Linked DNA regions of Homo sapiens: region 1 is linked to region 2. The links come from fine-mapping of genetic effects on gene expression. Tissue or cell type: whole blood. Region 2 holds a variant in brackets; the other region holds the start of a gene. All regions are shown on one strand. Distances are between the middles of the regions.

Region 1 (8,109 bases), 600 kb after region 2:
AGAGTAGAATGGTGAGACAGTTATGCAGTTTCCTAGTCAGCCAAGATCCTGAGAATGGGGTAGATAAGCTTGAAAATCTGGGAGCCAGTGGCTAAGTATCAGCAATCCTCTTTTTTGAGCATTAACAGTAGAAACTACATAGTGGAAAATTTTCTCTTCCTCCCACTACTCCCACCCAAGTGCCAAGAGCACTCCTCCAAAGAAAGAAAAGGAAAGTATAAACTTAATACCTTCTATAGTTTCTACACTTCTCCTAGCCTTTTCTCATATATTATCTCACTTGATCCTCAAATCCCCACAGCTGTAGAGACTGGGGCCCTGAGAGGTTAAGCAGCTCATTCTGAGAAACAAAGCTGGTTAATTGGCAAAGCCTGAGCTGGACCCAAGTTCTCCTGATTTCTGGTCCTATGCTCTCTCCACATCATGGTATATTCGCTTTAGCTGGCAGGCAAGATTGTTTGGAAAGCAGCCCAGACCCCTTTTTTTGTTGCTGATGATACAAGTTATGTGCAGACCTTGGGTTTATAAAAGCAATGACAAATTGAAAAAGAGAAGATGGTAACTACAAACAAACAAAAGACCCCACTTATATCCTTCTAGAAAAGTAAAATTGACACACAGAATTGTGTCTGTAATAGAAGAAAAGCTTTCATTTCTTTTCGCACTGTCGATAAGTAATTCCAGACATTGAAACTCAAAACATCCCCTAGTTCCTCTGCAGAAAGCCTCAAGTTACAAGTCAGGAAGCAAAGGTCTTTTGCTTCTTTATTATTTTGGAGTGAAGATCTGAACCTGAGTTGAAACAGGATCTGGTTATGCAGAGAGGAGAAATAGACTGCTTGGTGGAGTGAAAAAAAGAATCATTCTATTAGAATGTTTAACATCTTTAAAATCACATTAAGGACAAAGCTAACATTTTCCCAACTTGTATAGTCAGCTATTGCTATTCAGGGATACATTATCAAAACTGGGGGTTGGCCAAGCACCTAGTTTTTCTTTCTTCTCCCTATGTTTTGCTGACCACAATATGATCACTTCAATGCTGTTAACACCTCCACTGTCTGGTAAAAGTTGAGTGTCCAGACTTCTGAAAAACTTCATTATCTGGGAGACAGTTGAAAGTCTGAGAGTATTTGAAAAAAGCCACTAGAAAGTAAATTAAATCACTCTTCCCAGCCCACCTCACTTTTCTGACCAGGAGGGTTCTATAGCTACTCTCGCTACATGTTCTTCATGGGTACCCTAAGTCATCATAAAAAGGTTAAAATGTTTTTAAAAGCAGGAACATTTTCCATGGGATTTGTTTTCCACAGCTGGCACATTAATGTGTATTATGAGCACTGTCCTAACTGCTCCCAGCTTCTTTTATTTTTGGCAATATATTCTTTTAAATGTCTATGGGAAAATGGTACAAATGTGTTTACAAAATTTCAACACCTGAAGCAGTGATTATGCTTCATTATCAAAATAACCTTGAGGCCGGGCGTGGTGGCTCACGCCTGTAATCCCAACATTTTGGGAGGCCAAGGTGCGCAGATCACTTGAGGTCAGGAGTTTGAGACCAGCCTGGCCAACATGATGAATCCCCGTCTCTACTAAAAAAAAAAAAAAAAAAAAATTAGCCAGCGTGGTGGCGCAGGCTTTAGCCCTGCTACTCGGGAGGCTGAGGCAAGAGGATCGCTTGAACCTGGGAGGCAGAGGTTGCAGTGAGCCAAGATCACGACACTGCACTCCAGCCTGGGTGACAGAGCAAGACTCCGTCTCAATTTAAAAAATTAATAATAATAACCTTGAGTCCCCATTATGCCAGATAAATGAGTGACATTGTTTTACTTAGAATACAGGACTGAAGACCGCCCCGTCACATGTCCTCAGCATTGCTGTATATTGTGCCCTTCCTCCACATCCTCCCCAGGCCTCCCTGCCTGGCTGAAATGGCTCACACAGCTTCCCTTCTCTTTCTGTCATCGTCTTGGACTGCTGCCCAATCCCTGGCCCTCACCTTCAGGGGTGACCTTATGGCTGGAACGAGGACTGGAGAAGAGCCAATGGGGCAAGGCCAGTATAGCTTCAATGAGTGAATCCTGGAAATAAAAGTAAGTTCACTTAACTTATTAACAGTTCCAATAAAATGCTAGATGGGCTGGAAGGTAAGACCCAATGCCTTGAATGAGGTTTGTGTGTTATCAATGCATTTAAGTGACTGGTAATATATTTGTCCTGCTATCATTATCAGAGAACCCAGCTATATTTAAGCAAATTGGCTTACTTCTAAGAGGTGATTTTATGTGTGGTTGATGAAGCCCAAACAGCCATCATCAGATATAAGCATTTCAGCTGTAAGCAGGGAAGTTTCTGACAACCTTCTTGAGACAAGGAGAATAAATCAATACAACACACACCTCTAACTTTACCCATCATTGGTTAAGATTGCTCAGTTCAAGAATTTTCTCTTTGACTTCAGATTTACACTATTTGGTGGCTTCCTTGTCTTTTAATAAGCCACTTCAAAAAAGTTATTGGCTAGGTGCAGTGGCTCACACCTGTAATCCCAGCACTTTGGGAGGCCGAGACAGGCGGATCACTTGAGGTCAGGAGTTTGAGAACCTCCTGGCCAACATGGTGAAACCCCCCGTCTCTACTAAAAATACAAAAATTAACTGGGCATGATGGGGCACATCTGTAATCCCAGCTACTCAGGAGGCTACTTGGGAGGCTGAGGCAGGAGAATCGCTTGAACCCAGGAGGCAGAGGCTTCAGTAAGCCTTGATTGTGCCACTGTACTCCAGCCTGGGTGACACAGTGAGACTCTGTCTCAAAAAAAGTAAAATAAAAACAATTATTAAGGTGGCTTCTAAAAATTAGGTTTGATAATAGCTAAAAGGGATGGGCCTTAAAGGTTTTTTAAAGTGCATCCTGAAAGACTGCATTGTGATCTTTGAAAGTGCTTCAGAAATAAGAAAAAAGGAGGGATAAGTAATAAAGTAGGTATAACTTTTGAAACACTTGAAAAAACAACCCATTTAGCCATATAAACATTTTCTTCACCCATAATCACACATATCAAATTGGAACTGGTTACATAGATATAAATATCACAACCACCCAACCCCCAAATCCAAACATCATTTCCAAAAGCAAAAGAAAAAGGATTCCTTCTCCATATGGTACTGGGTCTTAAGGCTGGAATCTCTGAGAGAAGAGTCTTGCGTTATTGTTTAAACAACCTTTATTACCTGCCTCTGACATTCCCCAGGGTTACAGAGCAGGGGGCATCTGAGCCTCAAGTTCCACGGATGAAGCAGACACTGCAATAACAACTGAATCAATAGAGGAGAGGCATTTGGAAGTACTGGGGTGATACACCCAGTAATGGTAATCCTCAGCAGAAGATGGCATAGCTACCAAAAATCAGGCGTTACCACTGGGATGAAAACTGGGGAGGCAAGAAAATCATACGGTTGGAGTCATAGATCATTTCCCTCCCCGTTGAGCACTCCTCCCCCTTCCGTCCCCCATTAAGTTCATTCTATCCCACAGACTGGTCCTAGTGTCCTGCTAGCTCCCTGCTGAAAGAGAGAGGGAGGGAAAAGATGTCTGAGGTCTCTTCATTTCCTTTGTCTCTGTCCCTAAGGCAACTGGAAGCTGGAGCTGCTGCAGTCGGCCTGGCAAGCCCGTTGGCTCTGCAGAGTGAGCAGTCCCTGGCAGCCCCTGGAGCAGCTGCCAGTTAGACGGCCCAGAGTTCTGATAGAATGCATTGCTTCAGTTCAGTGCCAAGTGTTGGACGTGTTGGATTCAGTTCCCAGAGGGCTGGAGCGTGCTGTCAGGGCTGTCTGAAGACAAGAGAGCAGAGGCAGTTTAGTGCAGTTGGATGTGCGGGGTAGGGGTGGAGGCGCAGGGGTGAAGAGGGAGAAACTGGCCCGAATGGGTAAGGTGGTGCTTCTCCTTCCAGGGCCTTCCAGACAAGGTCTCCTGGCCTCTCACCATTATCTGGGCCTCAGATGAGGCGAACCCTGGAAGGGAGTTGGGGGTGGAAGGTGGGAGGCGCGCCCAGGGATGAGCGAGATGAGGAGGGCGCGAACCAGCAATCTGGGGCTGTGGTTTTAGACCCGCTCAGCGCCCTGGGCGAGGGCAGGCAGCCCCTCGGAGGCAAGCTGGCGGCGGCCCTCGGCCTGGGAGCCCGCGGCAGCCTCGGCGTCGGCGGTCAGGGCGCCTCCCGGGGCCCATTCGTGCTCGGCGCAAGCCTGGGACGGCTCGTCCTTGGCCTCGACGAGCTTACGGGAGCGGGTGTAGGCCAGGATGAGGCCTCCGGCCAAGCAGGCGTAGAAGATCATGATGAGCAGGATGTAGAGATAGGCGTCGTCGCCCTTGGCGCTGGTCACCTCGCGGCCCACGAAAGGGTCAGGCACGACCCCCATGCCCATGCTGGGACGAGGGCCAGCGCCCAAGCCGCTGGCATTACCCCGGTGGTGCAGCTCGAGCAACAGGCGGCTCAGAAGGGTTCGCAGCCGCTGGCTCTCGCTGCAGTTCATGGCTTTCGGGGAGTGACACGGCGGCTCCAGGACGCTGCTGACCTTTCCCCCTGGGCGAGGGGAAGCGAGCTAGCGAGCGGGCCGGCCGGCGGGCAGGGCTCAGCAGCGGAAACAGCGGTAGCACCCAGCTCTCCGGCGAGCGCGCAGTGGCTGGGGGCGCCGACGGCGGGGCCTCCTTATTCCCTCACTCCCGCCCCTCCTCCCCTTCCCCACCACGCCCCCTCCGGCCCGCGGCCGCCTCTTCCCAGGCTCTGGCTGTCTCGCTGCTCCAGGGAAAGGGGACAGCTGGTGGGGGGAGGAGAAGGGGACAAGAGTGGGGGCGAGGCTGGGAGACGGGCGGAGGGGGCGGGGGCTCGGAATGCGCGAGGCCCCAGGCAGCAGACGCTGGCAGGGCAGCTTGCTGGGGCCAAGCCTGGACCCTGGGCTGCGGAAGAGAATTCCTTCCAAGTTCTGGCCACCTGCCCTGCAGGCCAGGCTTTGGCCCAGATACAGCATTTGGCCCCCTAAGGCAGCTCTGCCTTGGGGCGCTCAAGGGAGAGGGCAGACGCCTTTCCGCAGCAGAGACCCCTTGTCCACATTTTATGGAAGTTACTCCCATATACAGGGACCCAGGCCTATCTTTCTAGTCCTCATTCCTTTCCTTTTCCCCCCGCCCCCCTTTTCACCCCCCTCCCACCTTGTCGGAGGAGAGCATCTTATTCAGAAGATGCTCAGGCTGAATTTGGTGACTGAGTGCTCAGGCACCTGCTAGAAGGCCAAGGCAGAGTAGAACTCCCTGGTTATCCAAAATGGTTTCTGGTGATATAAGTGATATTACACCTTCTTGGAAGCACCCCTGCTCTGATGTCCTATGACACTTTTTGAAAAGTCAACACATCTTAGCACATGAATGTACTATTCATAATGGGAGCCTGTTTCCCATGGGTAAGTAAGCCATCTTCCCAGAAGTGAAACCAAGTTCTTCCAATAAGAGTAGCATGCACATTTTAAAAGGCCCTTTGACTACACTCTGTGGATATCTCGGGATCTGAAAAGTGCCAGTTCTAGAGAATATGCTCACCCTACTCCCAGTTAGGCCAGCAAACAGCTGTGTGCCTCTCTAGACTTGGTAACAGGTCTAGGCCCTAATGGCTTTTAGGGCAGCCATTTTTTTCTCAAAGGCTGTCTTTTTTTAGGGGAAAACAAGGCACCAAGACAAAGATCAGGCCAGATATGTTAAATTGGAAACAGACTGAGCTTCACAAAGGAAAAGGGTTGGTTTGTAGATGGTGGGGTAGAAAAAATGAGGTAGTGCTGGCTAGGTCTGGTTGTCCATAGTTGCCAAATGAGAGCAGAAAGCAAGAAAAGTGTATGACCTTAGGCACACCTTGAAAATAATGCTGCCTGTTCAAGACCGTTCAGTCCAGGGACCATTCAATCTATAGGTGCCATGGGTTAAAAAAGGAAGGTTTTCCGATGCCTCTTCCCCAACCGTTCTTCAGCCCACCATCCACCCAGGGGCTGTAGCCTTCTGTGTGTTCAGGTGAGGTTGGCACCAAACTGTATCCAGGGTCTCAAACAGAGCCTTGCTTCACAGCCTCTAAACAGGCCTCAGAGACATTCCACATGACCCTGACACTGGCTCCCTTCTAATCACCTTGCCTCAATATTCTCACCTCAGAGGGCCTCAGGAAAGAATTGTTAAAGCAACTTGGCAGGATGAATGCCAGAGGACACAGCCAGAGAATTTTCAAAGCACTGCTAACCTAGTGATATGACTGTTGAGCTAAAAAGACTTCTCTTATCTGTTAAAACAGGAGTCCCCAACCTCCCAGGCTGCTGGACCTTGGCCTGTTAGGAACCAGCCGCACAGAAAGAGGTGAGCAGAGGGCAAGTGAGCATTATCGCCTGAGCTACACCTCCTGTCAGATCAGCAGTGGCATTAGAGTCTCAGAAGAGCTCAAACCGTATTGTGAACTGCGCATGCCATGGATCTACAATTGCATGCTCTTTATGAGAATCTAATGCCTGATGATCTGAAGTGAAACAGTTTCATCCTGAAACTATCCACCCCTCCCCAGTGTCCATGAAAAAAATTGTCTTCCACAAAACCAGTCTCTGGTGCCAAAAAGGTTGAGGACTGCTGTGTTAACATATACCTAGAAATAGCTAGGGTTTTTTTTTTTTTTTTTGAGAGGAAAGGAGGAAGAAACCCCTTTACTGTAACATACAAATAATCATTTAAACTTGTTTTCTAATTTCAACAGCCTTATGAGCTAATAGGATTCTCATTTTCCAAAGAGGAAACTGAGGTTCAGACTGGTTAAGTAGCAGGACTGGAATTATAAAGTTTGACCTTCTTCTTCTCAGTCCTCACACATTACTTGTGTCAAATGGGTGGTATTCATGAGCTACCTCCATTTTCCCACCTCTCCCTCCTCTTGAACCTTCTAGAGTCCAGTGCTTTCTGCCAAAACTACTTTCTATAAGTCAGTTCACCAGTGACCTCCGGGTCAAATTCAGGGGTCTCTGCTCCCTTTGCATCTTTGACCTCGAGGATGAATTTGAAACCATCAACCACCCACTCCTTCCTGTAACTGTCCTACCCTTGGCTCTTGTGGCATTGCATTCTCAAATTTCTCTTCTTATCTCTCTGACCCACCATTCTCTGCCTCCTTTGCTGGCTCCCCTTCTTTCCTCCTCCCATTAACTGTTGGAATCCCCAAAGACTCAGTCCTCAGCTATTCTCTCTCAACACCCATTTCCTTGAAGAGTGTCTCTTACATGGTTTCACCTACCACTTGGCATATATTTAGCCAAATTTGAATCTCTAGCTCTGATTCTTGGTAGCATGTCTCAGATCCCTCTGCTCCTTCCTTTCTGGTTTTATTGCCACAAGCTTAATCCATGTTCTCATTACCTCAGGTCAAATATGCAAACAGAGAATCTCCTGGCTTACAGCTGAATCTATCATGTTATGGTTAGAATAATTCTCCAACACCACTTCTATCAATTCAGCCCTATGTTCAGAAACCCAGGAGTTGTTACTCATTGATTCTTTAACAGAGTTTAGTCTTCTGTGGTGGAACTTAAGTTCTCACCACCAATAGACACCATCTTCTCCCCTTTGAATTTGAAAAACAGCATCTTCCTGGAGTTCCTCTGCAATACTCTGTGCATTTTGCCTTCCTCAAAATTCGTTGACTGAAAGAAGCCTTGCTCTATGCCCCTGTTTGTGCTTTCAGATTCTTCACAATGCACCCTTCTGAGCTTTACTTTGCAGCATTCAATGCAGAAATCTTGGAAAACACAAAAAAGCAACAAGGAAAATTTTGGAAATCTTGGAAAACACAAAAAAGCGACAAGAGAAAAGAACGAAAAATTATCAATGGTGCATACTCATGACTCTCTCTCTCAAATCTCTCTCTCTCTCTCTCTCTCATGTTTCATGGCCTTTTTCCCTTAAAAACATACTGTAAATTTTTCCATGTCATTTACTATTTCTCCATAGCGTTATTTTTTGTTGTTGTTTTTGTTTTTTTTAGAGTAGATCACTTACAAATTTTATTTTTTAAAGAACATCTTTTCCCCAGCCACA
Region 2 (8,109 bases):
TATTGCCTAGGTTTTCTTCTAGGGTTTTTATGGTGTTAGGTCTTATATTTAAGTCTTTAATCCATCTTGAGTTAATTTTTGTATAAGGTGTAAGGAAGGGATCCAGTTTCAGCTTTCTACATATGGCTAGCCAGTTTTCCCAGCACCATTTATTAAATAGGAAATCCTTTCCCCATTACTTGTTTTTGTCAGGTTTGTCAAAGATCAGATGGTTGTAGATGTGTGGTGTTATTTCTGAGGCCTCTGTTCTGTTCCATTGGTCAATCTCTGTTTTGGTACCAGTACCATGCTGTTTTGGTTACTGTAGCCTTATAGTATAGTTTGAGGTCAGGTAGCTTGATGCATACAGCTTTGTTCTTTTTGCCTAGGATTGTCTTGGCTATGTGGGCTCTTTTTTGGTTCCAAGGGAACTTTAAAGGAGTTTTTTCCAATTCTGTGAAAAAGGTCAGTGGCAGCTTGATGGGGATAACATTGAATGTATAAATTACCTTGGGCAGTATGGGCATTTTTGTGATATTGAGTCTTCCTATCCATGAGCATGGAATGTTCTTCCATTTGTTTGTGTCCTGTTTTATTTCATTGAGCAGTGGTTTGTAGTTCTCCTTGAAGAGGTCCTTGACATCCCTTTTAAGTTGGATTCCTAGGTATTTTATTCTCTTTGAAGCAATTGTGAATGGGAGTTCACTCATGATTTGGCTCTCTGTCCCTTATTGGTGTATAGGAATGCTTGTGATTTTTGCACATTGATTTTGTATGCTGAGAGTTTGCTGAAGTTGCTTATCAGCTTAAGGAGACTTTGGGCTGAGATGATGGGGTTTTCTAAATATACAATCATTTCAACTGAAAACAGAAACAACTTGACTTACTCTTTTCCTAATTGAATACCCGTTATTTCTTCCTCTTGCCTGATTGCCCTGGCCAGAACTTCCAACACTATGTTGAATAGGAGTGGTGAGAGAGGGCATCCTTGTCTTGTGCTGGTTTTCAAAGGGAATGCTTCCAGGTTTTGCCCATTCAGTATGATATTGGCTGTGGGTTTGTCATAAATAGCTCTTATTATTTTGATATATGCTCCATGAACACCTAGTTTATTGAGAATTTTTAGCATGAAGTGCTGTTGAATTTTTTTGAAGGCCTTTTCTGCATCTATTGATATAATCATGTGGTTTTTATCTTTGGTTCTGTTTATATGATGGATTATGTTTATTGGTTTGCATAGGTTGAACCAGTCTTGCATCCCAGGGATGAAACTGACTTGATCATGGTGGATAAGCTTTTTGATGTGCTGCTGGATTCGATTTGCCAGTATTTTATCGAGGACTTTCGCATCGATGTTCATCACGGATATTGGCCTAAAATTCTCTTTTTGTTGTGTCTCTACCAGGCTCTGGTATCAGGATGATGCTAGCCTCATAAAATGAATTAGGGAGGAGTCTCTCTTTTTCTATTTATTGAAATAGTTTCAGAAGGAATGGTACCAGCTCCTCTTTGTACCTCTGGTAGAATTTGGCTGTGAATTCCTCTGGTCCTGGACTTTTTTTGTTGGTAGGCTATCAATTTTTGCCTTAACTTCAGATCGTGTTATTGGTCTATTCTGAGATTCAACTTCTTCCTGGTTTAGTCTTGGGAGGGTGTATGTGTCCAGGAATTTATCCATTTCTTCTAGATTTTCTAGTTTATTTGCATAGAGGTGTTTATAGTATTCTCTGATGGTAGTTTGTATTTCTGTGGGATCGGTGGTGATATCCCCTTTATCATTTTTTATTGTGTTTATTTGATTCTTCTCTCTTTTCTTCTTTATTAGTCTTGCTAGTGGTCTATTTCGTTGATCTTCTCAAAAAACCAGGTCCTGGATTCACTGATCATTTTGAAAGTTTTTTCGTGTCTCTATCTCCTTGAGTTCTGCTCTGATCTTAGTTATTTCTTGCCTTCTGCTAGTTTTTGAATTTGTTTGCTCTTGCTTCTCTAGTTCTTTTAATTGTGATGTTAGGGTGTCGATTTTAGATATTTTCTGCTTTCTCTTGTGGGCATTTAGTGCTATACATTTCCCTCTACACATTGCTTTAAATGTGTCCCAGAGATTCTGGTACTTTCTGTCTTTCTTCTCATTGGTTTCAAGGAACGTCTTTATTTCTGCCTTTATTTCGTTATTTACCCAGTAGTCATTCAGGAGCACGTTGTTCAGTTTTCATGTACTTGTGCAGTTTTGAGTGAGTTTCCTCATCCCGAGTTCTAATTTGATTGCACTGTGGTCTGAGAGAGAGTTTGTTGTGATTTCTGTTCTTTTACATTTGCTGAGGAGTGTTTTACTACTAATCATGTGGTCAATTTTAGAATAAGTTCGATGTGGTGCTGAGAAGAATTTATATTCTGTTGATTTGGGGTGGAGAGTTCTGTAGATGTCTATTAGTTCTGCTTGGTCCACAGCTGAGTTCAAGTCCTGGATATTGTTGTTAATTTTCGGTCTCATTGATCTGTCTAATATTGACGTTGTGGTGTTAAAGTCTCCCATTATTATTGTGTGGGAGTCTAAGTATCTTTGTCGGTCTCTAAGAACTTGTTTTATGAATCTGGGTTCTCCTGAATTAGGTGCGTATATATTTAGGATAGTTAGCTCTTCTTGTTGAATTGATCCCTTTACCATTATGTAGAGGCCTTCTTTGTCTCTTTTGATCTTTGCTGGTTTAAAGTCTGTTTTATCAGAGACTAGGATTGCAACACCCCCTCCCTCTTTTTTTTGCTTTCCATTTCCTTGGTAAATATTCTGCCATCTCTTTATTTTGAGCCTATGTATGTCTTTGCATGTGAGATGGGTCTCCTGAATACAGAACACCTGTGGGTCTTGACTCTTTATCTTATTTGCCAGTCTGTGTCTTTTAATTGGGGGCATTTAGTCCATTTCCATTTAAGGTTAATATTGTTGTGTTTGAATTTGATCCTGTCATTTTGATTTTAGCTGGTTATTTTGCGCATTAGTTGATGCAGTTTCTTCATAGCATCGATGGTCGTTACCACTTGGCATGTTTTTGCAGTGGCTGGTACCAGTTGTTTGTTCCTTTCCATGTTTAGTGCTTCCGTCAGGAGCTCCGGTAATGCAGGCCTGGTGGTGGCAAAATCTCTCAGCATTTGCTTGTCTGTAAAGGATTTTATTTCTCCTTCACTTATAAAGCTTTGTTTGGCTGGATATGAGATTCTGGGATGAAAATTCTTCTCTTGAAAAATGTTGAATATCAGCCTCCACTCTCTTCTGGCTTGTAGGGTTTCTGCCAAGAGATCCGCTGTTAGTCTGATGGGCTTCCCTTTGTGGGTAACCCAACCTTTCTCTCTGGGTGCCCTTAACATTTTTCCTTCATTTCAACCTTGTTGAATCTGACAATTATGTGTCTTGAGGTTGCTCTTCTTGAGGAGTATCTTTGTGGTGTTCTCTGTATTTCCTGAATTTGAATGTTGGCCTCCCTTGCTAGGTTAGGGAAGTTCTCCTGGATAATATCCTGAGAAGTGTTTTCTAACTTGGTTCCATTCTCCCCATCACTTTCAGATACACAAATCAAATGGATATTTGGTCTTTTCCCATAGTCCCATATCTTTTGGAGGCTTTGTTCATTACTTTTCACTCTTTTTTCTCTACTCCTGTCTTCTCACTTTATTTCATTAATTTTATTTTCAATCACCGATATCCTTTCTTCCACTTGATCGAATCAGCTATTGAAGCTTGTGCATGCATCATGAAGTTCTCATGCCGTGGTTTTCAGCTCCATCAGGTCATTTAAGGTCTTCTCTACACTGTTTATTCTAGTTAGCCATTCATCTAACCTTTTTTCAAGGTTTTTAGCTTGCTTGCAATGGGTTAGAACATGCTCCTTTAGCTTGGAGAAGTTTGTTATTACCGACCTTCTGAAGCCTACTTCTGTCAACTCATCAAACTCGTTCTCTGTCCAGTTTTGTTCCCTTACTGGTGAGGAGCTGCAATCCTTTGGAGGAGAAGAGGTGCTCTGTTTTTTGGAATTTCCAGCTTTTCTGCTCTTGTTTCTCCCCATCTTTGTAGTTTTATCTACCTTTGGTCTTTGATGTTGATGGCCTACAGATGGGGTTTTGGTGTGGATGTCCTTTTTGTTGATGTTGATGCTATTCCTTTCTGTTTGTTACTTTTCCTTCTAAGAGTCAGACCTTTCAGCTGCAGGTCTGTTGGAGTTTGCTGGAGGTCCACTCCAGACCCTGTTTGCCGGGCTATCACTTGTGGAGGTTGCAGAACAGCAAATATTGCTGCCTGATCCTTCCTCTGTCAGCTTAATCCCAGAGGGGCACCTGCCTGTTTGAGATGTCTGTCAGCCCCTACTGGAGGTGTTTCCCAGTCAGGCCACATGGAGGTCAGGGACCCTCTTGAGCAGGCAGTCTGTCCATTCTCGGAGCTCATATGCCACACTAAGAGAACCAGTGCTCTCCTCAAAGCTGTGAGACAGGGACATTTAAGTCTGCAGAAGCTATTTGCTACCTTTTGTTCTACTATGCCCTGACCCTAGAGATGGAATCTATAGAGGCAGTAGGCCTTGCTGAGCTGCAATGGGCTCC[A/T]TCCAATTCATGCTTCCTGGCCTCTTTGTTGACACTGTGAGCTACTCAAGCCTCAGCAATGGTGGGTGTTCCTCCCCCAGTCAAGCTGCAGAGTTGCAGGTCAATCTCAGACTGCTGCGCTAGCAGTGAGCAAGGCTTTGTGGGCATGGGACCCACTGAGCCAGGCACGGGAGGGTACGTTCTGGTCTGCCAGTTGCTAAGACTGTGGGAAAAGTGCAGTATTTGGTCAGGAGTGTACTGATTCTCTAGGTACAGTCCGTCACAGCTTCCCTTGGCTAGGAAAGGGTAATCCCCTGACCCCTTGCATTTCCCAGGTGAGGCGATGCCTTACCCTGCTTCGGCTCAACCTCCATGGGCTGCACCCACTGTCCAACCAGTCCCAATGAGATGAACCAGGTACCTCAGATGGAAATGCAGAAATCACCCATCTTCTGCATCAGTCTCGGTGGGAGCTGCAGACCAGAGCTGTTCCTATTTGGCCATCTTGACTTTCATTTCAAAATAAGGTTTCTTATGAGTAAAGGTTTTGTGCTAAGGCTTTATTAGGAAGTGATATCCCAAGGCAGCAAGAGCAAGAAATAAAAGGAAAGCAAAAGAGAGAAGAAGAGAGTAGGAAAGAAGAAAAGATTGTTTGCTAGCCTTTTTCAACATCTTATTTTTTATTGATATATGTTTGTCCTTGGTGGTATTAATCCCTTTGTTTCCTGTACAAAGGTTTCCAAGTTTTGTCATCTGGACTATCCAGCAGCTACTGGGGATGCCAGGTCCCATACCTCATTGTGTTACAATTTATCTGAATCTGAAACTGGTGGCAGAAGCCAGAGACTCCATAGATCCAGCTGGATGAGGCCTGGGAATTGAAGCCACTGCAGTTCCTGGCTCAGCAGGTGCAATGGAGATTGTGTCATGCAAACAGGTTCTCCAGTGAGCAAACAGTTAAATGCCCAGCAGGCAGCTAAAAGCAAGGTACATTTAATGAAATGCATAATTAAGGCCTTATACATATTCCATCATATGATAAGATTATATTTGTTTATACATCCTTCCACTGATGGACATTTATGTTGCTTCCATTTGTTTACCATTGCAGAATATGCTGAAAAATAAACATTTATGTAAAATGTAGAATAAGCAAATCACCAGAGACAGAAAGTGGATTAGTTTGTCTAGAGCTGGGGGTGTGTACTGGAAATTATAGAGCTTATGAATAAATCATGCAGTGTTTCTTTTTGGGGTGAAAAAATATTCTAAAATTGATTTTAACAATAGTTACACAACTCTGAGAATATACTAACAGCCATCATATTGTACATTTTAAGTGGGTGAATTATATGGTATGTGAATTATATCACATTTTAAAATGATTATTAATTATCATTCTTATTTGAATCTTCCTGATTATTAGTGACATTAAACATCTTTTTGTACATGTATGGAGAATCGTACTTCTTCTGTGAGTAGCTTGTTCTTGCTCTTGACCGTTTATCATAATAATTATTATTATTCTCTATTTGGAGGAGTTAAAAGAAATATACTCTCTGGGACAACTGGATACCCACATGCAAAAGAAAAAAGTTGTACCTTTATCTCATAACATATAGAAAAGAACTGAGAATATACTAAAGATCTAAATGGAAGAGCAAAAAATATACAATTCTTAGGAAAAAACATAGGGGTAAATCTTTAAATGATTGGCAATGGTTTTGTAGATATAACATCGAAAGTACAAACAACAAATAGAGAATCCAGAAATAAATCCATACATCTGTAGTGAACTCATTTTTTACAAAGGTGCCAAGAACATACATTGAGGAAAAGACAGTTTCTTCAACAAATGGTGCTGTGAACACTGGATATTCCTATGAAGAAGAATGAAGCTTGATTCTTATCTCTCATCATATAGAAAAACAAAGTCAAAATTGATTAAGACTTAAATCTAAGACATGAAACTACGAGAAGAAATCCTTGGGGGAACTGTCCAGGACATTAGTCTGGGCAAAGATTTATTGAGTAATGCCCTACAAGCATAGGCAACAAAAGAAAAAAAATGTACAAATGGCATCACATCACATTAAAAAGCTTCTGCACAACAAAAGAAAAAAATCAACAAAATGAAGAGACAATTTGAATATATAAGTTTTAGCTCCTTATATATTCTGATTATTAATCCCTTGTCAAATCAATAGTTTATGATCATTTTCTCCCAAATGGGAGAAAAAAATCTAATAATACAATTTAAAAATAGGCAAATATTTTTCAAAAGAAGATGTCCAAATGGCAAACAGGTATACAAAAAGTTGCTCAACATCATTGATCATCAGACAAATGCAAATCAAAACTACAATGAGATATCATCTCACCCCAGTTAAAATGGCTTATTTCCAAAAGACAGGCAATAACAAATGCTGGCAAAGATGTGGAGAAAGGGAAAACCTCATATACTATTGTGGGTACATAAATCAGTACAACCACTGGGGAGAACAGTATGAAGGTTTTTCAAAAAACTAAAATTAGAATGATCATATGATTCAGCAATACCACTGTTAGGTATATACCCAAAAGAAAGAAAATCAATGTATCAAAGACATGTGTATCCCCGTGTTTATTCCAGCACTATTCACAATAGCCAAGATTTGGAATCAGCCTAAGTATCCATCAACAGACAAAAGAATAAAGAAAATATGGTACATATATACAATGGAGTACTATTAAGCCATAAAAAAGAATGAGATCCTGCCATTTGTAATAGGATGCACAGAACTAAAGGAAATTATGTTGACAGAAATAAGTGAGGCACAGAAAGACAAACTTAGCATGTTCTCACCCATTTTGGAAAGCTAAAAATTAAAACAATTGAACTCATGGAGATAGAGAGTAGAATGATGGTTACCAAAGGCTAAGAAGGATAGTAGGGAGGCAAGTGGGGACTGTTAATGGGTACAAAAATATACTTAGAGGGAATTAATAAAATCTAATATTTGATAGCACAACAGATGACTATAATTAACAATTTGTTGTACATTTTAAAATAACTAAAAGAGTACAATTAGAATGTTTGTAACACAAAGAAAGGATAAATTCTTGCAGTGATTGATACCCCATTTACCACAATGTGATGATTACATATTGAATGCTTGTATCAAAATATCTCATGTACTCCATAATTATATACAGCTACTTTGTACCCATACATTTTTAAAGTATAAGCAAAATAAAAAATAGACAAATTGGACTTTATTTAAATTAAAAATATTTGTGAATCAAAGGACACTATCAGGAAAGTGAAAACAACATGCAAAATTAGATAAAGTATTTGTAAATCATATATCTGATAAAAGTATAATATTTAGAATATGAAAAGAACTCTCATAACTCAATAGCAAAAAGATAAATGACCCAATTAAAAAATAGGCAAAGGGTTTGAATAGATGTTTCTCCAAAGAAGATACGCAAATGGCCAACAAGCACATGAAAAGGTGCTCAATATCTTTAATCATTAAGGAAATGTAAACCAAAATCACCACAAGATACCACTTCACA

The links. PIP is the estimated chance that this variant, and not a neighbour inherited with it, causes the effect.
Region 1: it holds the start of KCNE5, and the variant in region 2 is fine-mapped to the expression of KCNE5 in whole blood (TOPMed, PIP 0.97).

Annotation. Positions count from the first base shown.
Region 1 is chrX:109,620,489-109,628,597 of GRCh38, forward strand. It overlaps KCNE5 (potassium voltage-gated channel subfamily E regulatory subunit 5), which reads right to left and starts at 4,684. Exons shown (of 1, transcript NM_012282.4): 1 at 3,212-4,684. The coding sequence starts at 4,532. The coding sequence ends at 4,104.
Region 2 is chrX:109,020,414-109,028,522 of GRCh38, forward strand. No RefSeq gene overlaps it. Among named protein-coding and RNA genes, the nearest start is that of IRS4, 290 kb to the left of the region's middle. RefSeq lists an enhancer at 5,171-5,738. The variant A/T (reference allele first, on the strand shown) is at 4,570.